Homo sapiens: one gene and its partners. The protein of the gene in region 1 purifies or fractionates together with the protein of each later gene. This does not show direct contact. Each region holds a gene or a part of one and is shown in the gene's direction. Other genes may lie near its edges.

Evidence for each region.
Region 2: the proteins of DNASE1L1 (region 1) and TTC17 purify together in Homo sapiens (co-immunoprecipitation; 2 studies listed by BioGRID and IntAct, with this or other methods). This does not show direct contact.
Region 3: the proteins of DNASE1L1 (region 1) and SPCS2 purify together in Homo sapiens (affinity purification with mass spectrometry; 4 studies listed by BioGRID and IntAct, with this or other methods). This does not show direct contact.
Region 4: the proteins of DNASE1L1 (region 1) and PLXNA1 purify together in Homo sapiens (co-immunoprecipitation; 2 studies listed by BioGRID and IntAct, with this or other methods). This does not show direct contact.

Annotation. Positions count from the first base shown.
Region 1 is NC_000023.11:154,406,232-154,413,600, reverse strand, and holds the start of DNASE1L1 (deoxyribonuclease-1-like 1 precursor), read left to right. Parts: upstream 1-4,346; 5' UTR 4,347-4,489; exon of another isoform or gene 4,490-5,043; intron 5,044-7,369. Other genes in the region: tafazzin, read right to left, coding at 34-119, 349-394, 1,387-1,515, 1,595-1,757.
Region 2 is NC_000011.10:43,354,334-43,361,937, forward strand, and holds the start of TTC17 (tetratricopeptide repeat protein 17 isoform 1 precursor), read left to right. Parts: upstream 1-4,586; 5' UTR 4,587-4,621; coding exon 4,622-4,780; intron 4,781-7,604. UniProt on the Homo sapiens protein: Plays a role in primary ciliogenesis by modulating actin polymerization.
Region 3 is NC_000011.10:74,966,265-74,973,287, forward strand, and holds part of SPCS2 (signal peptidase complex subunit 2), read left to right. Parts: intron 1-3,300; coding exon 3,301-3,435; intron 3,436-7,023. UniProt on the Homo sapiens protein: Component of the signal peptidase complex (SPC) which catalyzes the cleavage of N-terminal signal sequences from nascent proteins as they are translocated into the lumen of the endoplasmic reticulum.
Region 4 is NC_000003.12:126,986,109-126,993,131, forward strand, and holds part of PLXNA1 (plexin-A1 precursor), read left to right. Parts: intron 1-2,412; 5' UTR 2,413-2,485; coding exon 2,486-3,679; intron 3,680-5,275; coding exon 5,276-5,458; intron 5,459-7,023. UniProt on the Homo sapiens protein: Coreceptor for SEMA3A, SEMA3C, SEMA3F and SEMA6D. Necessary for signaling by class 3 semaphorins and subsequent remodeling of the cytoskeleton. Plays a role in axon guidance, invasive growth and cell migration.

The DNA of each region.
Region 1 (7,369 bases):
TGCCTCCCTGCACTCGCTGGAGGAGCAGCTCACCTCGGCACACAGGCACACACTTGCCCAAGCTGAAGAAGTGGGAGTGTAGCTCCTTGGTGAAGCAGATGTCTGCAGCTGCAGGGGTCCTAAGCAGGGACAGATGCAATTAGTCCTGCCCCCTGCACCCCGCTCCACCACCCTGCCCCCAGCATCAGCATGCAGAAGGGAGGCACAGGGGAGGGCCTGCGGGGCCCCACCCCATGCCCTGCCTGGACTGCTGGACGCCACCTCCTGGGCAGAGCAGGAGGAGGGCAAATCTGGGCAGAGGCAGGTGGGGCCGGCCCGGCCCACTTCGAGGGGCCCATTCCTCCTCACCAACGCATCAACTTCAGGTTCCAGATGTGGCGGAGTTTCAGGATCCCTAGAGGACAGGAAAGGCTTCATGCCCCAACTTCCCATATCCCCAGGGAGTGCCCTTCCTTCACCCCATCTCAGGGAATGAGGGACAGCAGCACTACCATTTCCCTACAGCCCAAAGTGGCATCTTTCAGACCCTTAGGCCAGATCATTCAGTTCTCCCTGGCTCCTCCCTCTCCCCCACCCTCCACATCTTACTAATCACTGCACCTGGACTGCCTACCTCCCCAACATACTTGGACAATGCCCATTCTTCTATACTTCTCCCTGTACTGTCACTGCAACCAGCCCAGTCTAGGCTAGTGGATGGCTCCAAGTCCTCCTTCCTGGCCTCCCAGGATCCACCTGTGACATCTATAGGCCTTTCTCCACCCAGCAGCCAGGGTGAGCTCTGAAGGGCTCCAGTGTGGCTAGGTGGCTCCCCATGAACTCTAGGACAGTTAAGCTCTCTGTTCAGGAGTGGAAGCCCCAGGCACCCCTCCACCCGGCCATCTGGTTACCAGAGCCAAGCAACTTCCTGTGAAGTCAGCAGAGCAGGAACCTCTAGGTGTGGCAACCAGGCTCCCAAATAGGGCTGAACGGTACACGCCCAGCCAGGGGCAAACCTGAAGCCAGGACACTGGGCTTCCAGTCCCTGGCCCAGAACTTCCTCACAGGATATCCTATGTCCAACCCCCAAATTTTTCCCAAGACTGTGGGGCCCTGGATGGTTTAGAGAACAGAGGGTTCTGGAGGCCTGACGTTAAAGGAGCTGTAAGATATGCCCTGTGGCCGTTCCTTGGTCCTGCTCCATGCCCAAGGCCCTCTCCAAATCATGCTCCCTCAGGGATGCTGCAGGAGCCACAAATCCAAGTCTCAGCCCTGGGGCAGAACGCCCGGAAACCGGAGTGCCAGGGCTCCATGAAAAGGCAGCGAGAAGGGGTTTGTTCTGACGAGGCTGGGCCCGTCCCGAATCCTCGCCTTTCCTCCCCCTGCCCAGCACACTGGCCCGGGTACCCCAGAGATGAGGGTCGTCCATGCAGGACTGGTGATTGGACACGGTGATGAGGGGCGTGGCCGGGCCTCGCTTCTCGATGAGCTCGTACAGCACCTCCCTGTTGTGCACGGTCAGGTGGTTCATGTACTCTGGCGGGGAAGGAGAAGTCAGGCGCTCCGGGCTCGCCCGCTAGGTCGGGGCCGCGGCGTCCCCCACCCTAAGTCCCACCTCCGGCCGGGCATGGGTACCCGGGCGGGCCTGCCTCGGCCTGGGCCCACTCACTGGTCCAGAAGCAGCTGTAGGTGCCCACCAAGCCCATGACGACGCTGCTGGCCAGGGTCCAGGTGAGCGGCGGCACCGCGGGGAACGGCCACTTCACGTGCAGAGGCATCCCCACCCGGCCCGCGGCCGGCGCTCCCAGCGCCCCGGGCCGGCCTGTGGGGCGCCTCTAGGTCTGCGACCTCGACCGCTCGAGACACTGGCCCCTGACTGGCCCGCGCACGGACGGACGGGGGCGCGGCGCAACAGGGGACTGGACCGAGGTCCCTTCGCAGGTCAGGCCGGAGCAGCGCCCGGCCCCGCTCTCTCGTCACTGGGGAGCGGTCGCCGGGGTCACAGGCCGTGGGCGCGCTGCGGAACGGGAGGAAACGGGAAGGCGGGCGCTGGCACCCCGGCCCGGTGCAACCGCCGGAAAGCGAACCTGCGCCGGTGCCCAGCCCGACCGACTGTCGCAAAGCGCGCACGGGCCGCTTGACGGCAGCGAGGCCAGCCCCGGGGCGGCGGGAAGTGGCCGTCACCCCGTGGGGCTCCCGCTTCCTGGCAGCCTCCTGCGCTCGCCTTTTGTCTCTCTAGTGTTTCTGTTTTTTGTTTGACACAGGGTCCAGCCAGACCCAGGCTGGAGTGCAGTGATGGGATCATGGCTCACTGCAGCCTCGATCTCCCAGACTCAAGCGATTCTCCTGCCTCAGCCTCCCGAGTAGCTGGGACCACAGGCGCCCGCCATCACACTCTGATCCACCCGCCTCGGCCTCCCAAAGTGTTGGGATGACAGCCGTGAGCCACCCCGCCCAGCCACATATACAATTTGACATAGTTACAGTACTACATGATACTATGTGTATGTAGCAATGTATAATCTACTGTATGGCAAAATATACAATATATACAGCAATATATACAAACATATTGTGTATCATATGTAATACAAGAAACAGTATTTTATACCATCTGATACAGTCACAATGTCAGCTACTACCTCTAGTTCTGAAACATATTCATGACCCGGAAAGAAAGCCCCCTATGCATTAAGCAGCCAGTTTTTTATTTTTATTTTATATTTATTTATTTATTATTATTTTTTTAGGAGTCTCGCTCTGTCGCCAGACTGGAGTGCAGTGGCACAATCTCGGCTCACTGCAACCTCCGCCTCCCGGGTTCAAGCTATTCTCCTGCCTCAGCCTCCTGAGTAGCTGGGACTACAGGCGCAGGTCGCCACGCCCGGCTAATTTTTTTTTTTTTTTGTATTTTAGTAGAGATGGGGTTTCACCATGTTGCCCAGGTTGGTCTCGAACTCCTGAGCTCAGGCAGTCCACCCACCTCAGCCTCCCAAAGTGCTAGGATTACAGGCATGGGCCACCGCACCCGGCAGTTTTTTATTTTTATTTTTATTTATTTTTATTTTTGAGACAGAGTCTTGCTCTGTTGCCCAGGCTGGAGTGCAGTGACGAGATCTCAGCTCATTGCAACCTCTGCCTCCCAGGTTCAAGCGATTCTTCTGTCTCAGCCTCCTGAGTAGCTGGGATTACAGGCGCAAGCCACCACACCTGGCTAATTTTTGTATTTTTAGTAGAGGCTGGGTTTCTTCATGTTGGTCAAGCTGGTCTCGAACTCCCGGCCTCAGGTGATCTGTCTGCCTCTCCTCCCAAAGTGTGAGTCATCCTACCTGGCCTGTTTTTTATTTTTAAACCATAATTTATTGATTTTTTTTTTTGAGATGGAGTCTCGCACTGTCGCCCGGGCTGGAGTGCGAGTGCAGTGGTGTGATCTCGGCTCACTGCAAGCTCCGCCTTCCAGGCTCAAGCAATTCTCCTGCCTCAGCCTCCTGAGTAGCTGGGATTACAGGCGCCCACCACCACGCCGGGCTAATTTTTTGTATTTTTAGTAGAAACGGGTTTCATTATGTTGGCCAGGCTGGTCTTGAACGCCTGACCTCGTATCCACCCGCCTCAGCCTCCCAAAGTGCTGGGATTACAGGCATGAGCCACCACGCCCAGCCCATAATTTATTGATTTTTTAAAATTTGTCCAGCCTTCTATTACCACGTCGAATCCATTAGCTACAGCCATCCCATGAGAAGCTGAGTGGATTCAGCCCCACCTCCTGCTCACAGACCCTGTCCGAGCACCTCATTTGTCCCAACAGCATTACTGCAGGACCCCCAGGACGTTGGACTGCCAGCTCCCTGGGTCTCCTCCTCTCTGGGGCAGATCCTCAGTCCTCCCTTGACTTCACGACTGTGGCCAGATCATGTGTGGACTGTCCCTCTCTTTGGGTCTCCAGAGCGCTTGCATCAAACACCCCTAACTCAGAAGTGTGCAGCCACACTGGGACTCAGAACCCAACAACAGGGACAGAAGACTCACGCCCTTGGGGTGCCCGGTCTCGTGGCATCAGGCATGACTTCCAGCTCCTGCGCCTTCCCCAGCAACTGCTGACTGGGGACCCAGACCGGGAGCTGAGCGACGGGCCTGGCGAGCGAAGCTCGGGGTCTCACTCAGGCACCAGCCCCTCCTTGCCCCAGGCTTGAGTGACTCACAGGTCTGTCATGTCCCGCTGGCCCGGGAAGGCGGGGTCTGGGTGGGAAGGTGGGCGGGCAGGTCAGCAGTTCCCAGGCCTGGTGCTGGTCCTCCTTGTTGGCGGCGAGGCGGAGACGGGGCGGGCCTGCCTGTTGGCAAGGGTGGGGCGTCCGGCCCAGCCAGGCCCTTCCTGGCCGGGTGGCTCAGGAACACAGCCTCTTCCTCTTTTTTTTCCCCTCCTAGCCCTATTCAGGCAGGAGCTGCTCTTCTGGGGTATCGCGATCCACTTAAGGATGAGGCAGACTTGGTGACAAGCTGGTCTGAGCAGGTATGGGAGCCCCCTGGGGAGACGGAAGAAGGGAGGAAGTTGCCTTCTGCCTGGGGAGGGTTTGAGAGGGAGAGGGAAGCCTAGGGCTCCCACCAAGGCTGATATTGACAGCCAGGGTTTGGGGCTGAAGCCAGGAACCGTCGCTCTCTCTGGTTCTTACTGGTAGCCCTCATGGGGGTCCCTGACGCCAGAGCCTCCAAGGCTGCATGTGCCAGCCCAGGGCTGCCCACATACCCATGTATATCCCAGAATAGGCACCAGGGTAGGGAACCCAAACTAGCATGAGTGACAGAGCAGGTGGTCAGGGAGAAACAGACATCAAACCCAGCCAGGAGAGAGACACCGCAACAGAGAGACAGAGAAGGGAAACCAGAGACGAGAGGGAAAGTGAGACAGAGACGGACAGAGCCTCAGAGAGGTAGGAAGTGAGCCCGAAGGGAAGGTGACAGGTTGATAGAGAAAAGCAGGCAGACAGAGCAGAGGAACTCATGCCTCAGGATGCAAAAGCCACATGGACAGGGCGTGGAGCAAGGAGCCGAGCCCTGCAAGGTCAGGTGAGTGTGAGACAAAGATAAACTGAGAGAGGGGGGCTCCAGCTGGTGAGATGAACAAGAAGGGCTCCCCAGTGGTGGCAGGGGCATGGGAAAGAGTCCCCATCACAGGTTGCAATGGGGATGATTTGGCCATATCTGAGACCTTTTAAAATGCACACACCCTTCACTGCCGGGAGTTTATCTTAAAGAGAACATCTCACAAGTGGGGAGACAGAGATGAACGAAGATGTTCCTGTAGTTGCTAATGGAGGCGAAAAGCACTGGGGTCTTGGAACAACATGGTGAAACCCCATCTCTCCAAACAAATTTTAAAAATTAGCTTGGTAGCCGGGCGCGGTGGCTCACACCTGTAATTCCAGCACTTTGGGAGGCTGAGGTGGGAGGATTACTTGAGGTCAGGAGTTTGAGACCAGCCTGGCCAACATGGTGAAACCCTGTCTCTACTAAAAGTACAAAAATTAGCCGGGTGTGGTGGCACGTGCCTGTAATCCTAGCTACTTGGGAGGCTGAGGCAGGATAATCTCTTGAGCCTGGGAGACGGAGGTTGCAGTGAACTGAGATCAAGCCACTGCACTCCAGCCTGGGAGACAGAGTGAGACTCCATCTCAAAAAAAGAAAAAAAAAATTAGCTTGGTGTGGCAGCATGCACCTGTAGTCCCATCTACTCGGAAGGCTGAGGTGAGAGCATCACTTGAGCCTGGAAGGTGGAGGTTGCAGTGAGCTGAGATCACATTACTGCCCTCCAGCCTGAGCAACAGAATGAGACTATCAAAAAAAAAAAAAAAAAAAAGGGGGGGGGCCGGGCGCGGTGGCTCACGCCTGTAGCCCCAACTACTCAGGAGGCTGAGGCAGGAGAATCACTTGAACCCGGAAGGCAGAGGTTGCAGTGAGCCAAGATCACGCCACTGCACTCCAGCCTGGTGACAGAGCAAGACTCCATCTCAAAAAAAAAAAAAAAAAAAAAAAAAAAGGTAGACTAGGCCAGGCGCAGTGGGTCAGGCCTATAATATCCCAGCACTGGCTGGGCGCAGTGGCTCACACCTGTAATCCCAGCACTTTGGGAGGCCAAGGCCGGCTGATCACCTGAAGTCAGGAGTTCGAGACCATCCTGGCCAAGATGGTGAAACCCTGTCTCTACTAAAAAATATAAAAATTAGCTGGGCGTGGTGGTGGGTGCCTGTAATCCCAGCTACTCGGGAGGCTGAGGCAGGGAGTTGCTTGAACCCAGGAGGCTGAGGTTGCAGTAAGCCGAGATCACGCCACTGCTCTCCAGTCTGGGCGACAGAGTGAGACTCTGTCTCAAAAAAAAAAAAAAAAAAAAAAAAAAAAAAAAAAAAAATCCCAGCACTTTGGGAGGCTGAGGTAGGAAGATCACTTGAGTCCAGCAGTTTGAGACCAGCCTGGGAAACATAGAATTCAGGAGGCTGCAGTGAGCTGTGATGGCACCATTGCACTCCAGTCTGGGCGACAGAGCAAGACTTTGTCCCAAATAAATAAACAATAAAAGAATAAGCTTGACCGCTTGTGCACTGTTGGCGAGAACGTAAAATGGTGCAGTCACCATGGAGACCAATATGACACTTCCTCAGAAAATTAAAACTAGAACTACCATATGATCCAGCAATTCCACTTCTGGGTATATACCCAAAAGAACTGAAAGCAGGGGCTGGGCGCTCTGGCTCACGCCTGTAATCCCAGCACTTTGAGAGGCCGAGGCGGGCAGATCACGAGGTCAAGAGATGCATGAGGCTGGGGCACCAGGGCTCATTCCTGCAATCCCAGCACTTTAGCAGGCTGAGGCAGGAGAATTGCTTGAGCCCAGGAGTTCAAGACCAGCCTGGGCAACATAGTGAGACCTTGTCTCTATTTAAAAAAAAAAAAAAAAAAAAAAAAGGACACGGTGGCTCACACCTGTAATCCCAGCACTTTGGGAGGCCAAGGTGGGCAGTTCACCTGAGGTCAGGAGTTCGAGACCAGCCTGACCAACATGAAGAAACCCCATCTCTACTAAAAATACAAAATTAGCTGGGCGTGGTGGAGCGTGCCTGTAGTCCCAGCTATTTGGGAGGCTGAGGCAGGAGAATCGCTTGAACCTGGGAGGCAGAGGTTGCAGTAAGCCGAGATCGCACCATTGCACTCCAGCCCGGGCAGCAAGAGCGAAACTCCGTCTCAAAAAAAAAAAAAAAAAACCAGATGGATGGATGAATGAATGAATGAACAAAATGTGGTCTACCCAGATGCCCAGACAATGGAATATGATTCAGCCATGAAAAGGAAAGAAATTCTACAGCCGGGTGCGGTGGCTCACGCCTGTAATCCCAGCATT
Region 2 (7,604 bases), on another chromosome or scaffold:
ATTCATTCTATCAACAGAATGAATTCTAATTCATAACTTCAAGAATTCTATGATTTATAGTAATAGTAAATAAAAGACCTATTTGCTAAAATATGTTGAAAGACTAAATTACATGCAGTTAGGGACTTGCCTATCATTCGTTGAACTAACAATTGAATCACAATTTGAGATATCAGCAATTTTGTCAACTGCCATCCTGTATTTCTATAAATTTCATCGAAGAGGAAAAGTATAATGAAAAAAGAAACATCAGATCTTAGAACAACAGAATAAAAGAACGGTGACAAGTGATCTGGATGTAGAAAATTAGTAGGAACAATTTTATTTAAGTTTTTTGTTTTATTCACACAAAATGGGAATGCTACATTTGGGGGAGCTAAAAAACTGAGTCAACAAACTATTTTGCACAGAAGTTCCAAGGAAGATAAAAATGTTAGTATAGGAAATGCTTCCTGCCCTCAGTTGCTAGTGTAGGTAATTATAGAATTGCAAGATGACAGGTCCCTGGATGGCCTTGGCCATGCCAGCTCTTCCCCCTCTTGCTTGCAATTTTCAGGCAGAATGTACTGAGAATGCAACATCCTGAGATAAGGAGGAAGCTTCCAGAACAACCTGGGCTGCGTCCTCATTTTTCCTAAAACAGGATGTTCTGCAACACTTGTACTCAGCAATCTCAGTTACACCCAGGGTATAAAACCCAAAGTGTTTTTGGAGTCCCTCATCTGTGCTGCAACATGGGGTATGTGCAGATGAGGCTCCATCTGCCCTAAGCAGCTTTCCTGAGCCATGGGATCAGCTAACCATGGATCCTCCATTTCTGTGTATCTTTGCTGCCTATTTGTAAAAAATTTGCTTTGCCTGACTTACTGTTTGAGTGTTCTGCCTCACCAGATTAGAACTAAGAACTATTGCAAGAACCACTCAAGAGTTTGGCTGTTCAAAGTTTATAAAATAATATCACAAAGCAGCATAGTATTGTCATATTACTGACAGAATTCAGAGGTGGCAAACAAGTTGACAGACATTTTTGCAGGCTAGGATTTCAACTGTATCTTAAATAGATTTGAGAAAGCAGCATGAGGAAAGGATTTTAGGCAGGGAACAGGAGCAAAAGTATGTCTAAATTAGTCTGTGATACTTAAAACAGTTCAGTGAAAGACTAGAAGAATGGTACTTGGCAGTCAAGATCTGTGGTAGGCAAAATTCTAAGATGATACCCAATGGTCCTTGCCCGCATAAAATCTCCCCTACGTATATTAAAACATCATGTTGTACACTAAATATATACAATTTTGTCCATTTCACCTTAATAGAGTAGAAAAGGGGGAAATTTCCTAACTTGACTATGTGGGTAAAACATGAATACGATATCACTCCTGTGATCATAGGTTTGGATGTGGTTAGGGCCGCCAAAACTCATGTTGAAATTTGGTACCCAATGTGGCAGTGTTGGGAGATGGGGCCTAGTGGAAGGTTTCTGGGTCATGGGGGTGGATCTGTCATGAACAGATTAATGCCCTCACGGTGGTGGGGGGGGAGGTGAGTTCTTGCTCTCTCAGGAATGAATTAGTTCTCGAGTGTGGGTTGTTAAAAGAGTTTGGCTTTCTTGATTTGTCTCTCTTGCTGCTTCTCTCAACATGTGATCTCTATGCACACCCACTCCCCTTCTGCTTTCCTCCCTAAGTGGAAGCAGCGTGAGGCCCTTACCAGATGCGGCTGCCCAATCTTGGACTTTTCAGCCACCAGAATCATAAGCCAATTAAACCTCTTTTCTTTATGAATTGCCCAGCTTTAGGTATTCTGTTATAACAACACAAAATGGACTAAGATAATGTTATATGGCAAACGAAATTTTTGCAGATGGCATTAAAGTTACTAATCAGTTGAATAAAAAGGGATATTATTCAGATAGACCTTATCAACTCACATGAGCCCTTTAAGTCTAGGCTTAGAGATAGAGGAATTCAAGAGATTTCAGCAGTGGAAATATTCTGCTTGCCTTCAAGGAATAACTGCCATTGTGAGAGCCACATGGCAGAAAACTGTGGGTAGCCTCAATGTTAATGGCCACAATCAGCAGCCAGTAAGAAAATGGAGCCCTCAGTCCTACATTGGCAATAAATTGAATTCTGCCAAGGACTTGAAGAATGAGCTTGACTGAGGAACCCCAAGCCTCAGATGAGATTGCAGCCTTGATATGAGCCTTGTGACACTGAGCAGAGAACTCAGTCACACCACAGCAGAAGACTTTTGCCCCAAGGAAACTGTCAGATAATGTGTTAAGCTAAGTTTGTGGCAATTGTTACACAGCATTAGAAAACTAATACAGGATCCCAAAAGATAAGAGTTATCATCTACAGAAAATAGGTGGTATAATAAAGCTATAGAAGCTATAATTCCACCCCTTTAGAGGTTAACTTGTGAAGGTCAAAGAAATTGCTGATAGCAAAATATGTGATGCTGGGGCCTTTCTCAAATTCCTCACTAACATTCATTCATTCTCAGGCTCTCAGATCTAGAGTCAGGTGGATCTGAGTCCAAACCTGAGCTCTACCACTTAGCAATATGATCTTGGCCAACTTACTTAACTAGCCAGAGCTTGGTAAGTTGTGACGATTAATAGGAACTATGCATGTACAGGACCCAGTACGTATTAAACACTCAAGAAATGTTAGATGATGATGATGTCAGCTTTATACACAAGAAATAGGGTTGACCTCTATGCCCCAAAAATAAGATGCTGAGACAAAAGGGATTCCATCATTTGCCACTTCTCTATTTTAAAATTCTGAAACACTCCCTATTGCCTATGTCTAAACTCCAAGAAACTCTTAAAACATGCCACTGACTTCACCTTTTCGTTTCTTGAGACGGATTCTCGCTCTGTCACTTAGGCTGGAGTGCAGTGGTGTGATCTCGGCTCACTGCAATCCCCGCCTCCCGTGTTCAAGCAATTCTCTGCCTCAGCCTCCCAAGTAGCTGGAATTACAGGTGCCCGCCACCATGCCCGGCTGATTTTTGTATTTTTAGTAGAGGCGGGGTTTCACCATCTTGGCCAGGCCAGTCTTGAACTCCTGACCTCAGTGATCCATCCACCTCGGCCTCCCAAAGTGCTGGGATTACAGGCGTGAGCCACCGCGCCCGGCCAACTTCACCTTTTCACTTATTATTCTGCCTGAACCAGCACCTGAGCTCCAAACCTTTTTTTCACCTGGTTGGTTGCTCTCTCCTGTACATATGCATTCATACACCCCCATTATCCTGTATTTTAATTGTTAACCTGCCAATAATATCTCACTATATTGCACACTGCCCAATGGTTACATTTCCATACCCAGAGACTATCAGAGTACCAGGCAAAAAGCAAATAAGCCATATATTTTTAATGAAATGAATGTTCAGTCTTCAGGCCTTTAAGAAAAGCTGTTCCTGGAATGAAGAAAAAAAAAACACCAATGCTGTGGTTGTTTCTACATTTCTATAGCGTGGTGTTTAAACACTTAGCAACTGCTCTCCTGCATACACTTGTGTAGAGAAGTGGTTAAACAATATTCTCATCCTTCTTTTCCCAAGGAGAAAACCAAAAGCATACCAACCTTAAATAACACACACAGAGGGCAATCTTGAAAGACCTAAAATGACATATCTAGCAAGAAGCTGGCAGCCAAGCTTGACGCCTGCCTGCCTGCCTGTTGGTTCACTAGAAGAAAGTGGTTCTCAAACTTTAATATGTATACCAGTCACCTGAGGCTATTGTTAAAATGTAGTCTGATTCAGCAGGTTGCGGGGGAGAGGGAGAAGAGCCGAGAATGTGCAGGTCTAAAAAGCTCCCAGGTGATGCCAATGTTTCTGGTCTCCAGACCTAGACCTCTAGCTTAGACCTGTGCTGACCAGTACGTTAGCCACATGCGGGTATTAAGCCCCTGAAATATGACTAGATAAGCTGTCAGTGTAACATGCCGATTTCCAAGACTTAGTTAAAAAAAAAAAAACTAAACTATCTCAATGATTTGTACAGACCACATTGAATTAATATTTTGTGTACTTTGAGTTAAATAAAATGTACTAGTAGGGTTACTTCCCTCTATATTTTACATTCCACACGTGGCTCGCATTATAGTGCTACTGGACAGCGGTGCCCTAAACTAACAACCGTCTCCATTCTGAAGCTTCCACTATTGTGAGACTTTAAGAATAAAAGCAACACCTCTCTTCCCATAGGTGGTTCGAAAGCACACCTTTTGTTCCCCAACTATCTACCAGAAATAAAACGAAAAAACAAAGATTTAAAAAACAATAAAATTGAGTCCTTTCACTTCTGCTTAAGCGCCACCTAAGCCACTGCTTTTGTCTCCCTCCGGTTCCCACGCTCCGAGATCGTATCACCCACAGAAAAACAATAACTAAAAAGCGGTCTCCATCCCTGAAGCCAAGCTGGGAGAGTAGCCGAAGGTCGCGCTTCCTGGCCGCCAAAACCGAGGTGGAGGAAACTTGGTAGTCAGCGAGCTACGCCCTCTCGGCTCCTCCTCCTGCTCCTCCTCCAGGGCCGACCTCTTCAAGATGGCGGGCGCCGGAGACTAGCTTCCGCTTCCGGTGTGAGCGGCCCGGCCGGGGGGGCAAGATGGCGGCGGCAGTAGGGGTTCGTGGCCGGTACGAGCTGCCGCCTTGCTCCGGCCCAGGCTGGCTCCTCAGCCTTTCCGCCTTGCTGAGTGTGGCGGCACGAGGGGCCTTCGCCACCACGCACTGGGTCGTCACGGAGGACGGGAAAATCCAGCAGCAGGTAGCGGCCGGGGCGTCCCTCTTCTCCCGTGCCCGCCCTCGCCCCGGGGGGATTACCCTGCTTGGCCCCTGGCTGTTGGGCTCCGCGCGGCCCCGCCCCCAGCCTACCCTCACAGGGAGGTGGCACCGCGACCTCGGACTCCCTGCATTCGGACCAGGCAGGCACTTCCCGCTCCCCACTTGTCTCCTGGTCCTCGTTTGGCCCCCTAGAAGTTCTCACCCTTCCACCTCGCGGGCCGCGCGCCGCGTGGGGAAGAGTCGCCCAGCTGCGGGAGACGGGCCCTACGGACCTTTTTTTAGCTCGGGGTTTAGAAATCACAGATTTCAGGATTCCTGCCTTTGGTGCCTCTCGGGTTCACGCGTCACCGGCCCTCCCCGAGGAAATAGAAAGCAGGTGGCAGCTCCAGGGTGTGCGCGAGTCCCATGGTATGACAGCTTCTGGACCCCTAGCCTGTGGACCATTCGTGCTGCTCCCCTAGTCTCGTCTACCACATGGTGGATTTCGTTTCTGGTTGTGTTGGTTTCAGCTTGTACCGTTACTCAGGTCAGCAGTGGCTCATTAGAAACAACATAGAAACACTCCCCTTCAGAAGGAATGCTTGAAGATGCCGCTGGTGGCGTTGCCTGCATCTTTTCAGCTGTTACTGCCCTCGTTTCCCAGTGCACTTTGCTTTGTTTCTTTACCTAGTTCTTGTGACCCAGCCTCGCATGGAGGATATGCGATTTCCTGGATTCTTGTATGCCTGAACTAATTCCTCAGAGGCGAGACTGCTTTTCTTATATAACTTTATGATTGCCTGCGTTTTGTAAATGCTGCTGATGCCTAACGAGTGCGTGTGTGTGTTCCGCTACAGAATATTGGTAAACTTACTGACTTCGAACACTTGAGGACAATCTTGAAGTGTCTAGCAAACATTTAGAAAGTGAATTGTGTGCCCCATGCAATTTAGCCCACTGATCTAAAACGTTTTAACTAGTGTGGTGGGAAATTACTGGTCCTTTGGATTGTGTGTAATGAATCATGATAGGAACACATTCCAACGTTTAAGGTGAGGTTTAGATTTAGATTTGCCGTGTAATGTAATTGCAAATTCTATCTCAAGTAAGTTAAGTATAACTAAAAATCCGCCTAGGTATTCATGAGTGGTTTTCAGCATATCTAAGAAAAGACCGTGTTCCTATTGGGTAACGTTTTCTATATGACATACATAAAGAACAGTTTCCTTTTCATTGCCATACTATCTGAGACTTTAAATATATGTGTATGTGTTTCAGAAACCCAAGAAAACACTGTAAGACCATATGTGAGTGCTGGTTGCTTCCACCCTTCTTTTGTTTCTTGATAGTGGTTTTCCCTGAGGTCTCTATGAAGACGTGGAATTAAGTCACTCCTGCTGCATTTTGGGGAGCCTTTCTCCTGTTGGCTCTTCTGCAATATTGTTTTTGGCCACAGCTATTTATACTCTATGACATTGACTTCTCCTTCCCATTTTGGTGTCCTACCACTCAGCTGAAAAAGTAGCCCATCTAAAAAGTGAAAGCTGGTAGAAATGTTTTATGTATATACTTAACATTGCAATGGGAAAGTAGAGTCTGATTTTTTTTTTTTTTTTAACAAATTCCTTCTTTTTGCACTTTGGATACATATGTATTAATGGGGGAAGGCAGGGGTTACTGGAAACTTGCCTCAGAGAAGCAGGGAAGAGCTGAAGAATCTTTTGGATCTCTGCCAAGTCACTGCTGAGCTAAGTAATTAGGCTTAAAGTTTAAAAAGCAAGATTTCTCTATTACATGACTTTTTAAGTGATCCTTTTCATTGAATTTTCCAATACTTTGCTATACATAACATTTACAATGTTATGTTCAGGCAGCCACAAGATTTTATGCCAGAAGAAATAAGGTTGGTGTCTGCAGTGTAACAATAAGAGGCCAGGGGAGGAAAGTTGGATTTAATCTGAAGAAAAGGCACCACATATAAATAAAGTAAAAGAATTGGGTGCTGTGGTGAGCTGCCGAGTTCCACTCTGATAGCTGATTGTGCATGACCCATGCTTCCCTTCCTGGCCATAATTTGTATGCAGGTAGAATCCAAACTATCAATTTAGATCGTGATTAATTATAATATTTGTATATACTGTACTTAAGGACTTGAAAGATCACATTAGTGTATGAAATCCATATATATTGCAGATTTGTACATTCAGAAACATAATTAAAAGCTTAGTATATACAGATGCTCCTCAGCTTATGAAGGGGTTATGTGCTGATAAACTCATTGTAAGTCGAAAATACTGTAAGTCAAAAATGCATTTAATGTACCTACCAAACATTGTAGCTTAGCCTAACCTACCTTAAACGTGCTCACAATACTTACATTAGCCAAATTTGGGCAAAATCATCTAACAGCATCTTTTACAATAAAGTATCAAAATACCTCATGTAATTCATGAATACTTCACTGAAAGTGAAAAACAGAATGGTTATATGGGCACTCAGTACAGTTGCTACCAAATGCATGTCACTTTTGCAGCATTGTAAAGTCAAGAAATTATAAGTTGAACCATCGAAAGGTGGGGACCATCTGTATACTTTGTCCTGACATACCAAATTCTTGCTGCTTATTCTTGGTTACAATATTTGAATGAGAGCATAAGTGTGATTTCAGTTTTAAAGTGACCTACTACCAGGCAAAGGGCTAAGGGCTAACTGGATTAACAGCTTTTAGAAAATTAGAGTGGTACATACCTTTTGAGAACCTTTAATATTAAACACACCCAGATTAGATATATGGGTCATTGTTTTCCACAGTGATCATAAAGAAGTAC
Region 3 (7,023 bases), on another chromosome or scaffold:
TTCAAGCCACTCATTCTAGGATATTAGGAAAGGATCTGATTTTGGAGACTCAGATCTGTATTAAGTTTACTTGAAGCTGAGGAGCTGAACTGGAAAGTACTGAGCATGAGATACAAGTGTGGCTTGTATTACAGTGGAATTAAGAACTTATTCTGGAGCTAGAGAATATGGGTTTGAAATCCAAGGTATCTGTGATCTTGTGCTAATGAAAATTTACTTATTTTTGAGATGATTTGAATACCACTCATTTATAAATATGGGTAGCATTCAGAATTATCATAAAGATTAAATGAGAGATTTTATATTGTATTTGATACATAATCATTTCCTTTCCCCTCTTTTTTATGATAAATGTAAGATCATGGTCGTTGCCTACCCAGCGTGATTTTTTTTCTCAAGAAGTTGAATATAAAGAACTTAATTATACTTCACTATTAAAATAGGTAATTTTGGTTGGTAGTTTACTTTTTTAAACAATGTTACCACTACCTAAATTTTGTTTTGTTTTCTTTTTTTTGAGACAGGGTCTTACCGTGTCACCCAGGCTGAAGTACAGTGGTGTGATCATGACTCACTGCAGCGTCAGCCTCCTGGCTCGAGCAATTCTCCCACCTCAACCTCCTGAGTAGACGGGCACATGCCACCATGTCTGCCTAATTTTTAAATTTTTTACAGAGACAAGGTCCTACTACGTTGCCTAGGCTGGTCTCAAAACTCCTGGGCCCAAGCAATCCTCCCAAAGTGCTGGGATTACAGGCATAAGCCACTGTGCCCAGCCAACCTGAAATATGTTTTAAAACTTCATGTTGGGGATTTATCTTCAGAGGCAGTTAGCAAACCTCTGATAAAGCAGATCCTAGTCAAAAATTGTATTATCCAGATTGCCCCACATTTCCCCCAGAAGTGGCACCAGGTGATCCTTGACTCCTTTCAGTAATCAGATTAATCATCCCAGTATGAATTTTTCACTATTAAGGCAGTTCAGAAGAATAATATTCCATAGGTTCTAGAGACAGTTCCCAGGGGAATTCCAAAGAGATTTGAAAATGATAGCAACATTATTACAAATATCTGGCCTCCCAAGAGAACTACCTTGATGGTAATTCATTTGTTTGGTTATATTTGTTTAATAAAACAAGGTCTTATTTTTGTCATGTCAGTTTTATTTATAATGTAGGGACTACCATTATAAATGTCTTCTGTTGCTGGGCATCGTGGCTCATGCCTGTAATCCCAACACTTTGAGAGGCCAAGGCGGGCGAATCACTTGAGCCCAAGAGTTCAAGGCCAGCCTGAGCAACTTGGAGAAATCTGTCACTACTAAAAATACAAAAATTAGCTGGGCATGGTGGCGCATGCCTGTAGTCCCAGATAGTTGGGAGGCTGAGGCACAAGAATCACTTGAATCCAGGGGGCGGAAGTCACAGTGAGCCGAGATCTGCTACTGCACTCCAGCCTGGGCGATAGAGCAAGACTCTGTCTCAAAATAAATAAATTAATTAGATAAAATAAAAAATAAATTAGCTGGGTGTAGTGGCACACACCTATAATCCCAGCTACTGAGGAAGCTGAGATGGGAGGATTGCTTGAGCCTGGGATGTTGAGGCTGCAGTGAGCTGAGATCATGCCACTGTACTCTAGCCTGGGTGACAGAGTGAGACCCTGTCTCAAAAAAAAAAGTCTTCTGTATCCTAGACTGCATATATCCTTCATCTCTAAATCTCATGATAATTCTAAAACATCAGTATTATCCCAATTTTAAAGGTAAGGATACTAAGACTTGGGGAAGGAAGTTATTTGTTACAATCATACTGATTAAAGGCCAAGATTTAAATCTAGGATTATCTCTACTCTAAAGTCCATATACTTTGTACTATATTTTCCTGCCTTTCCTGTTCATGAAATTTATCTATTTTTTAACTCTTCTTTAATGGAATGCTTCATGAATTTGCCTGTCATCCTTGTGCTAGGGCCATGCTAACCTCTGTATCGTTCTAATTTTAGTATATGTGCTGCCGAAGCGAGCACTGTTCATGAAATTTATTTTTATTTTATTTATTTTATTTTTATTTTTTGATACAGGGTCTCACTCTGTTGCCCAGGCTGGAGTGCAGTGGCACGATCTTGCCTCACTATAGCCTCTGCCTCCCAGGTTCAAGTGATTCTCCTGCCTCAGCCACACAAGTAGCTGGGATTACGGGCCTGCACCACTACATCCAGCTAATTTTTTTTTGGTTTTTGTGGGTTTTTTTTGTTTTTTTTTTTTTTTGAGACAGAGTCTTGCTGTGTCACACAGGCTGGAGCACAGTGGCACGATCTCGGCTCACTGCAACCCTGCAACCTCTGCTTCCTGGGTTCAAGCCATTCTCATGCCTCAGCCTCCTGAGTAGCAGGACTACAGGCATGTACCACCATGCCCAGCTAATTTTTGTATTTTTGGTAGAGACATGGGGTTTCACCATGTTGGCCAGGCTCATCTCGAACTCCTGACCTCAAGTGATCTGCCCACCTCAGCCTCCCAAAGTGCTGGGATTACAGGTGTGAGCCACCACGCCTAGCCTTAATTTTTGTATTTTTAGTAGAAATGGGGTCTCCCATTGTTCCTTGTTGGCCAGGCTGGTTTCAAACTCCAGGTCTCAAGCAATCCACCTGCCTCGGCCTCCCAGAGTGCTGGTATTAAAGGTGTGAGCCATCGTGCCCAGCCTTGTTTATGAAATTTAAATGGCACAGTATACACAAAGCTCTTATGCCAGTTTTTGGCAAACTATAAGTGCTTATTAACTATGGTACTTAATACTGTCAAAAACAATATAATAATAAGTCTATATGCATATAGGAAGTAATCGTAGTACTATTTGACATACTCTCTTATAGTAAACTATTTGGGTCACTTTTCTTCTCTTAATAACCCTTAAAATCAGTTGAACATGGTCAAGTCCACTGGGACTATTCGTTGTTTTTTATAAAGAAATAAGCACTATTATAACAAAGTCTTGACAAACTAGGTATCTTATTATACATGTTGTCTTTGAACATAAAGATGAGAGCTAGTTTATGCTCTGTATCTTTTTCTTTTCTTCCTTTCTGAGGTGTTTGCAGAATTAACCAGAGAGAGCCTTGCTTCTCTTGGTATATAAACATAAGGATGAAAATGAAATAGCTAAATTTTCAGTGTTTTGGCAGCAAGACAAAGCTGTCTTCTTTAGGACTATCATTATGAAAGTTTTTATATCTGTTGCTTGTCAATTTGTGTTACTTCTCTTTTATGTTTGGGTATTTTCCCCTTAACTTTATTTGAACCTATTTTGTGATGATGGGGATTCTGACCATTTATACCTCATATAAGGAGAAGAGCATCTTTCTCGTGGCCCACAGGAAAGATCCTACAGGAATGGATCCTGATGATATTTGGCAGCTGTCCTCCAGTCTTAAAAGGTATGACTATCCTCACAGATTTTTAAATCCTGGTGTTGGATTTGCCCTGGCATGTTGTCATTATCAACAGAAGACTTATTATGTGCCTACTCTATGTGGATCATAGGGCTAGTCATATAAAATGAAGAAAGGAGTATGGATGATCTAGAAGGTTTGTCCTAGCCCTATAGTTCTGAGATTGCGTTATCACAGAAATGCTCTGAGGATAAACTGTGGGAGAAGGTACTTTTTCCTGTGGCCAGTTAACAGAGACGATTAAGCATACAAAAGTATAAAGGCCAAAGATGTGAGATCAGTTATCTTTGAAGAATTCCATTAGCTTCTGTGTCTTCTATGATCCTGTCTTCTCTCCACGAATACAATCAAGAATATCTGGAGCAGTGCACTGGGCAACTCAAAAAAAGCACAATCTAGAGTCTGTTTCTGACCAGTGTCAGGTATAACTTTGTGCAGCTGACACACATGTGTTTTGTAGGTACCAAGAACTAGGTTCATGTTCCAATTCAGTTTCTTTCTAGCTGTATAACTTTGGGTAAATCATATAAATTATCTGAGGTTTAGTGGGGTCAAAAATGATGCCTAGAGTTTCTGGGAAGATGAAATACCAATTATAATAATAGCAAATGTTTATTGAACATTTACTGTATGTTGGGTATTCTGCTAAATGCATTATCTCATTAAGTTTTAGAACACTCATTTTATAGATAAGAATACAGGCCCAAAGTTTAAATCAACTCTTCCAGTATCATATAGCCCAAAAGTGGTAGAGCAGGAATTCCAGCCCAAGTTTGAAACCAGAATTCATACTCGTAGTCACTATCTTAAAAACCTATTATACTTAACTGGTGCATAATAGCCGCACAAATTATAGGTACAATTATTTATATATGAAGTTAAGTGTAGCATCTGTGCCATACAGACTGTCTCATTGCCAACTTGTAGAAGCGCCTATGAGAAAGGGAAGCAGACCTTCATTCTGTTGTTGCAGCTGAGTTCTTGCTTATCTCCTGACAGGGCTTCTAGCTGCCCTTTGGCCTCAGCCATCATAATCTGCATCCTCTACCAGGCCACTGAAGCTGAGTTGCAGAATTCTAAAACCTAGCGGCATTATAATTTCATTATTTTTATTCTGACTTTTGTATTTTTTAAGAACTTTTATATAATTCACCTACCATACATACAGTTCACCCATTTAAAGTGTACAGTTCAAAAGTACCTAGTAGTATTTACAGATATTTGCAACCATTATCACAGTCAATTTTAGAGCATTTTCATCACCTCAAAAAAAAAACCTCTGTACTCTAGCTAATCACTTCCCTATCCTCCCACTTGCCTGAGCCCTGGGCAACCACCAGTCTACTTTCTCTGTTCTCTTTTATGGACATTTCATATGAATGGAATCATACAATATGTGGTCTTTTATAACTGGGTTCTTTCACTTAGTGCAATTACTTCCTATGTATACTGCACACAAGGTTCGTTCATGTTGTAGCATGTATCAGTACTTCATTCCTTTCTATGGTCAAGTAACATTCCATTTTGTTTATCCATTTGTTGACAGACATTTGGGTTGTTTCTACTTTTTGGCTATTATGAATAATGTTGCTATACATATTTGTGTACATGTTTTTAGGTAGACATGTTTTCATTTCTCTTGGGTAATACACCTGGGAGAAGACTTGTATGGTATGCTAACTCTCTTTGTTTGATGAACTGCCAGACTGTTGTCCAAAGTGGCTGCCCTATTTTACAATCTCACTAGCAGTGTACAAGGGTTCTGATTTTTTTCACGTTTCCTGCTGATTTTTACCAACTGCCGTATTGTTGGTGGAGTGGAATGTGAATGTTCTTGCTCTCTTCCCGGCTTTCTGCTGATGTCTTCTCCCTCCCCCACCTCACCGACTGATTTAGTAGCTTAACAGTGGCTGATTCTGATGTCTTATTCCCACTGCCAGGTCATGTGATGTGAAAATGGCAATGAAAGGTTTCACAGACTACTAGTTGCCACGTGCAGACAACACAAGCTATGTGACTCTCTCGCAAAAAGTGATTTTGTCACTCCCCAGCAAATTCATTATACAGTCTAAACTCCTTCAGCATATGAAGTATTACAGCATTCATCCCCTAGTGACATCTCCAGCTTTCTTTTATGCCCCTCTCAAAATACATTCTCTTACTCTGGCAATATTATGGAATTTGCAATATGCTAAGTTATCCAAGTTTCCAGTGACCCCGTACCTTTAAACATATTCTTCTCTCTGGCTTAGCTATCTTTCTGTAACCTGGCTCACTCCTACTTCCAAGAAGCCTTCCCTGACATACCTTAGTCTTCCTTAACATGCCTTAGTCTAAATTAGGTGGTCCTAGTTATTCTTTTTTTTTTTGAGATGGAGTTTCACTCTTGTCACCCAGGCTGGAGCGCAATGACGCGATCTTGGCTCACTGCAACCTCCTCATCCGGCTTCAAGTGATTCTCCTGCCTCAGCCTCCTGAGTAGCTGGGATTACGGACCCACGACCACACCCGGCTAATTTTTGTATTTTTTGTAGAGATGGGGTTTCACCATGTTGGCCAGGCTGGACTTGAACTCGTGACCTCAAGTGATCGCCTAGCCTTGGCCTCCCAAAGTGGTGGGATTACAGGTGTGAGCCACCACGCCCAGCCCATCCTAGTTATTCTTAAAAGCATTTATGCTTACCTCTGTTAGTTACCACATGGAGCTATAATTATTTAATATCTGTGTCTCCTCCTGGGCCCGCCCCCTCCTCCAAAGTGTGAGCTCCTTTACCATTCACTATACAGTAGAAACCTAAGCCCAGGTGGGACTTTCTCACTCACCCCTTGGTAACCAGACCCAGCCCAGGGCCTGGCGTGGCATGTTTTGTTATGTGAATGATTGACATTCATCTGGGCTGGGCTGCAGCCTTGACCTCCTAATTAGTCTTTGCCTGCAGCCCAGTCATTGTCAGCCATCCACAAAGTCCCCTATAACCTAGCCATCTCTATGAACATTCCCTTCTCTTTTTTTTTTTTTTAAACAACAAATTGGATCCACTGAAACTTTTATTTAACTTTGTAATATGAACATTTACCATATAAGGTTATAAGACAATATAAAATCTATCTCATTTCATTTATAGCATAGCTATAAATCAATCTAATCTCTCTTATTAATGTTTTATATATATATATATATTTTTTTTTTTCCTGCATACTTAGGCAATATTTTCCCCAAGGGATATATCATTCTCAGTAAACTACCGCAAGAACAAAAAACCAAACATCGCATATTCTCACTCATAGGTGGGAATTGAACAATGAGATCACATGGACACAGGAAGGGGAACATCCCTTCTCTTTCTTACCCTAAGTGAAACCTGACCATAACCTCTGAGGACATATTTCCACTGCAGACTGCAAGTGGTGGCTGATGTTTCTCTCACAGCCTTCATTACTCCGGTACTACAGGTAGAGATGGGTCTCTCCTTTGCAGCTTCCAATGCGTCCTCTTCCCTAAAATCCCCCCTTTGAATGCATGTCATCACATTGTGCCACTTCTATGCCTCTTCTTTGCGGTTAAACACACAC
Region 4 (7,023 bases), on another chromosome or scaffold:
GTATAATTATCCCAGAGGAGGGGAGAGCCCAGCCCCTGGTAATTGCAGGCCTGCTTTGAACTGATAAACGGTGAGTGATTCATGTTTTCTTTGGAGTTCACATGTGCTCAGCTCCCAGCCCCGGCCCCACTGCCACTGTGAGGAGCCTGTTTTCTGGCTCCCGGGTCTTCCTTGAGCTCTGAGGCGGGGGCGGGAGTGGGGACTCCTCCCCTGCTGTTCTTGGGGCGCTGTCCGGCAAAGGCAGCTGGCAGCCTGCTAGGAGCACCCTGCAGTTCCTGCTCTGGGATTCCAGCCAAAGCTCTTTGCTTCTGAGAGCCTCGGTTTCCCCACCTGAGCAGTGGGTGTGTGCTGTGCACACACTGGGCAGGGAGTGTGTGGGGAGTGAAACAGGAGTGAAGAAGCATGGGGGGCTGCCGCACCCAGACCTGGCTGGCCCTCCGCATACCCTTCATTCATTCGCTCACTCACGGGGATTTATTGAGTCTTCCTGGGTCCCTGGCTTGGCTTGGGGATGCAGTGGCAACCACCCAGAGCCAGGCCCTGCTCTCACAGGGCAGCCATTCTGGCCGGGAGAATGGGAGCAATAAGTAATAGAGACCCTTCACGAGTCCTGTGCTGCAGATGAGAACAGGGTGACTGAGCAGGGCGGGGAGTGGAGACAGGGGCACAGAGGCCTGGGGGAGGGGCAGGCAGCCCCACACTGCATGTGGGCACCAGGCACAGAGGCTGATGGGACTGTGCCCAGCTCCCTGGTAGACTTGGAGAAGGCATCCATCTTCAGGCCTCAGCTTCCCCATCTGTAAAATGGGGCCAGACCATACAAGGGGTGTCTGGGATGGTCTGTGCAAACTGGCTGGCTGAGGCTTGAACTCAAGACTCAGGACTCAGCCTTGCTGTAGCCGGCTCCAGCCAGGAGTGGGTGAGAGGCCCCAGCACATCAGGCACATCCAGGGCAGCAGGCCCTACTGACAACCAAGGGGGTGGCACTGCTGACTATGCCTTGTGGGCAGGTGTGCCCTTTCCTCTTTCATCCATGAGAAAAGAGCTTTCATGCCCCTTTTGCAAATGGGGAAACTGAGGCTAGGAAAAGGGAGTGTCCCCATCAGAGTCATCTGCCTACAGAGTAACAGGGTCTAGATTTAGCCCAGTGCTTGGCTGCCAGTTGCTAGGCAGGGTGTGGTGAGACTTTTCCAGAGGCAGTGGAGGCCAGGACAGGATATGGGGACTCCCGCCAGGATCTGGGCAGCGCTGACCTCGTGTGCAGGTCAGAAGAGTGGCCTTAGCCTCTGCATAGGGACCTGGCTGTAGGTGGTTGTGGGTGGAGGGAGCCGAGTACCCTGGCAATCCAGGAAGGAGGGGTGGGCATTTTGTGGAGTTTGGGGTGGAGTCAATGGACCTTGGTAGTGAGTGTGACCAGGAAGTGAGGGCCCGATGTGGAGCAAGGCAGGAGGGGGCCACACAGGTCTGGGTGGGTATGGGGTGCTGAGGCTGGGAAGGGGTCACTGTGGAGGGGTGGAGTGCAGGGAGCACCTGCCAGCCTTCCCTGTGGAGGAATTCCTCTTTCCTTGGAGTTGGGTGTGAGGCTGGGAGCAGGACTGGTGGCTTGGATAGAGTGCTGAGAGTCAGGGCTGGTGGGCCAGGGAGCCTGGGAAGGGGCCGTGTGGCGGGGCACCCGTCGGCTGGGGTGGGGATGTGGGTGGGACACATTGCCTGGCTTCTGGACTGCAGGTCTCAAGGTTTATCCAGCATGGGGCTTGGGGTCCCACCGAGAGCAGCCCAGGCTGCCACCTATCCACAGTGAGAACTGCTGCCTGTGTGGCCTGGGCCTCCATGTCCTCCGTGGTGCCTCTGCTGTGGGCTGTCAGGGCGTGTTCGGGGGAGAGGCAGGGCTGTGGAGGTGGGAGTGAGCACTAAAGCCCATCTATGTCAAGCTTCTGTAGGGGACGGTGGTGGAGTATGTCCCCACCAGCCTCAGGCAGGGAGCTGGTGCCCACCCTGGGAGTACAGAGCTGTGGGGAGGGTCCTGCTCCCCAGTGCATAGGGAGGCTCTGGGTGAAGGCTGCTCTCCAGGTTGGTGTCAGATGTTGGTGTCAGCTGGGGTCCCATTCCACACCTCAGGCCCTTGTCACCTGCCTTCCTGTTCCTGGCCTCCGCCAGTGATGGCAGGGCACAGGTGCCAACGGAGTGACCTCTTGCCAGGTGTCCTGGGGATACCTGGTGCACCCCACAGCTTATAGGGCCTCAGGCCAGGGAGGTGCCCAGTTTGCCCCTGGCTCCTCCTGGTGGGTCAGGTTCTGCCTCCTGGAGGTGCAGTGGGCACGCCCAGCACTGGAAGGGCTCACACTGGGAGATCATAATATCATGGGATGGGCCATGCCTGCATTCACATGCCCTCTTCTGCCCCTTCCCCAGGGCTGAAGCTCCTGGCACCATGATGCTCACCCCAGCAGGACCAGAGCACCGAGGCCCAAGGCCCCAGCCTGCCATGCCGCTGCCACCGCGGAGCCTGCAGGTGCTCCTGCTGCTGCTGCTGTTGCTGCTGCTGCTGCCGGGCATGTGGGCTGAGGCAGGCTTGCCCAGGGCAGGCGGGGGTTCACAGCCCCCCTTCCGCACCTTCTCGGCCAGCGACTGGGGCCTCACCCACCTAGTGGTGCATGAGCAGACAGGCGAGGTGTATGTGGGCGCAGTGAACCGCATCTATAAGCTGTCGGGGAACCTGACACTGCTGCGGGCCCACGTCACGGGCCCTGTGGAGGACAACGAGAAGTGCTACCCGCCGCCCAGCGTGCAGTCCTGCCCCCACGGCCTGGGCAGTACTGACAACGTCAACAAGCTGCTGCTGCTGGACTATGCCGCTAACCGCCTGCTGGCCTGTGGCAGCGCCTCCCAGGGCATCTGCCAGTTCCTGCGTCTGGACGATCTCTTCAAACTGGGTGAGCCACACCACCGTAAGGAGCACTACCTGTCCAGCGTGCAGGAGGCAGGCAGCATGGCGGGCGTGCTCATTGCCGGGCCACCGGGCCAGGGCCAGGCCAAGCTCTTCGTGGGCACACCCATCGATGGCAAGTCCGAGTACTTCCCCACACTGTCCAGCCGTCGGCTCATGGCCAACGAGGAGGATGCCGACATGTTCGGCTTCGTGTACCAGGATGAGTTTGTGTCATCACAGCTCAAGATCCCTTCGGACACGCTGTCCAAGTTCCCGGCCTTTGACATCTACTATGTGTACAGCTTCCGCAGCGAGCAGTTTGTCTACTACCTCACGCTGCAGCTAGACACACAGCTGACCTCGCCTGATGCCGCCGGCGAGCACTTCTTCACGTCCAAGATCGTGCGGCTCTGTGTGGACGACCCCAAATTCTACTCGTACGTTGAGTTCCCCATTGGCTGCGAGCAGGCGGGTGTGGAGTACCGCCTGGTGCAGGATGCCTACCTGAGCCGGCCCGGCCGTGCCCTGGCCCACCAGCTGGGCCTGGCTGAGGACGAGGACGTGCTGTTCACTGTGTTCGCCCAGGGCCAGAAGAACCGCGTGAAGCCACCAAAGGAGTCAGCACTGTGCCTGTTCACGCTCAGGGCCATCAAGGAGAAGATTAAGGAGCGCATCCAGTCCTGCTACCGTGGTGAGGGCAAGCTCTCCCTGCCGTGGCTGCTCAACAAGGAGCTGGGCTGCATCAACTCGGTGAGTTGGGCAGGGGCGCCCCTCCTCCCGCGGCCCCATCCCCTCCAGGGACGACGGCATCGGTGTCAGATGCACGCCCAGTGGTGCCTGCTGTGTGCCTGGCCTGGCTTTTGGCTTGGCCATCCCCATGGCTCAGCTAGGTGGGGCTGCCCTTTTCCATCCCCCAGAGAGTGGGTTTGGACCCAGGGTGCTAGCCCCAAAGGCTGCTCCCAGCCATGATGCTGTCTTGTGCCTCAGAAGATGGGGTGACGAGGCCCTGCTGGCATAGTCCACAGCCCCTGTGGGACACTGGACAGAGTGCCAGCCACATGCCTGGTCCTACACCTGGTGCTTGCCTGCTCCATCTTGTCCCCATCCTACAAATGAGGTTATAGGATCAGAGAGGTGGGGTAACTTGCCCTGGGTCACACAGCAAGTGAGAGGCTGGTGCCAGAGCCTATCAGGTGAGCCCAGACACCATTTCCATGGAGCGCTTGTGTCCCCCACATGACCCTGGTGGCACCTGCCCGCTGGGCCTCTGCTTTTGCCCAGCAATGGGAGCTGATGGTGTCCTGGTGCAGGCCACAGTTAACAACTTGCAGAGAAAGTGACCCTGACTGCAGGGAGCCACAGCCCCCAGCACCCATCAGAAGGCACAGCTGGGGTGGGGCCTCTATCTCGCTGCCTTTCAGGGAGTGTCTTGTTCACACTCCTGGGCAGGCTCAGAGGGCACGGGCCTTGCTTAGGGTGGAAAGTGAAGGGGCTGGGACTCGGCCCAGACCTGGGACCCCCGAGGCCAGGCCTTCTGGGCTTGCTGCTGGGGGTCGCTGGCCATCGCAGGGGAAGGCCTCGCCCTCTCTGGCTGTAGTCTCCCATGTCTGACCTGAGGGTGTTGCTGGTTTTGTCCTCAGGGCAGAGTGGGACTGCAAGGGCCCCTCAGTCCTTCCGTCTCACGCTCACTGCCTGTGTGAGGCAGGGCCCATGTGTGCTTGGCAGATGCGGTTGTCCACCCTCCCCTTGGCTTTTCAAGGAACGTGTTTTCTCTGCACCATACAGATGGAGACACTGAGGCTTGTAGGGGCAGAGCCTGGGTGAAGCCCCACCACACTCTCTCTTTGTGCCCTGCCCCAAGGCTGGGGCCTGCTCTTTCATCCCTGGGGACAGTCCCCACTGCCCCCTCCCACCTGTTCATTCCATGTGGCCTAGCCCTGGCCCAGCCTCCCCTGCTCCTTCCTCCTGAGCAGCCTGGCCCCTGCCAATGAACCCTCTGCAGACAAGGACCATCTGCCCCACTTCTCCCCACATCCCTTCCCTGCCTGCCCTGCCCTCTCCTTAGGCCTGGCGGTGGAGCAGCGCCCCCTCCACACTGGCCCCCAGCTGCTCCGGAACCTCAAGCTATTGATTGCTTTCTCGTGCTCTTAGCTGGGAGCCCGCCCTCTGCCTTTCAGGTGTGATCTGCTCCCTCCTGTCTTAAACCCTCTCTGTCTGCACCTCTCCTCTGGGGGCTACCCCCAACCTCTCTAGAAAGACAACTGCACTCCCAGCCCTGCCCAGGGAGGCCCAGTCCTCCGGGAGAAGGTGCCCGGGGAGTGGCTCTCACCCTGCCCCTTCCCACAGCCCCTGCAGATCGATGACGACTTCTGCGGGCAGGACTTCAACCAGCCCCTGGGGGGCACAGTCACCATTGAGGGGACGCCCCTGTTCGTGGACAAGGATGATGGCCTGACCGCCGTGGCTGCCTATGACTATCGGGGCCGCACTGTGGTATTCGCCGGCACGCGAAGTGGCCGCATCCGCAAGGTCAGGCCTGGGTGGGGTGGGGTGAGGAGGGGGCTTGGGGCAGGAACAAAGGCTTGCGGCCGTCCCAGGTGGCAGGCCCAGTGCTGCTGTATGCTGTGGGAGGCTAGATCTGGCGTACAGGGGGCAGGGGGAATGTTGCCCTACACTAGGCCCAGTGACCTTGAAGGGCCCCACTCCCCTCTGTGCCTCTGCCCATGACTGGCCCCAGGCCCACTAAGCAAGGACACTTTGAGACCACGCAGGAGCCTGTGCAGGGGCCCAGGGATGCTGAGGCGGGGGCTGGCTCTCCAAGGGCACTTGACCTCCTGGGGAGGCTGCTGTGTGTGGGTGGTGAGGGCAGGCCTGCGCGGCCCCCTCCCCTCTGGGCCCTGCTCCCCAGCCAGGAGATCCAGTGTCTGCTGCCTCAGCACTCTGCCGGGCCAGAGGCCTTGGCCCTGCCTCTCCCCAGCCCCTCTACTGGGCCAAGGGCAGGGCAAGGGTAGTGCCCCTGCCTGTCTTTGGCTGGTGCTTGAGGAGCTCCAGCACACAGCCCTGGGCTGGCCCCACGGTGGCAGGGGGAGGGCTAGGTGCTACAGGGATGGCTGTCTGGTCTTCAGGGTTCTCCTTTCCTTCCCCAGAACAGTGGGCTGGACAGAGGCAGTGCAGAGCTTCCTGGAGGGTGTGGGTGGAGGGGAGCTGCCTGGGCTGGGGTGGGCACCAGGCTGGCCTGGTGTGGAGGAAGCTCCCGGAGAGACTGAAGGGTGGGGATACTTGGACACCCCAGAGGCCCAGTGGGCAGTGGTGGGTCCTGGGGTGCATAACCGGCACCAGAGGCTGGTGCCGATGCAGCTCCCCTGAGCCCATGTGTGCCCGCGAGTGGGGCTGGGCCGGGGGCTGGCCAGGGCTTGCAGCTCTCAGCCCGGTGCCCAGTGTTAGGAAGGGGGCCTCCCATCTCTGCCATGGTAGTTGCCCTGGGAGTGGTGGGGAGTCCTGCCCCTCCCTGGCTCTGTGATCTCTGGGAGGGGATCCCCTGCAGCCTCAGCTTCCCTCTGTGAAATAAGCCAGATGTTCAGGCTCTGGGCTGGGGGCGGGGGGTGCTGGTGGTCTTGGGGCCCGTGGGGGCCCAGCTGCTGATTGTAGGCCCCCCAGGGTGGGGGTGCCCTGGGGTCCTGCTGGTTCTGCTCATAGTGGCTATGAGGCTGAAGCTGATGGGGAAAGTCCTGTGACCCCTGAGTTGGGTCCTCTGCTGTGACTTCCCTCTTGGCCCCCATGTGGGGTACCGCCCTGTGGCTCTGGTGCGAGGCCCCTCCCGTCCTCTCAGCCTGCACTCCCTCTCCTCACACTGGAAGGCACACAGGGCTCTCGAGCGCATGGGGTGGGTGTTGGAGTGGGTTTTGCCAGACAGAGGACCGTGCTTGTGTGGAAGCCCAGTGCAGCAGCTTAGAGACATTTTGTGGGGCGCCCCAGAGCCTGTTACCCAGCCAGTGACCAGGTTCCTCTAGCCCTACCCTGTTCCTGCTGCCCAGCACTCACCCTCTTGTGCCCCAGGGGCACCGTTTGGGTCAGAGCTTTGCTGAGGGAGCAGC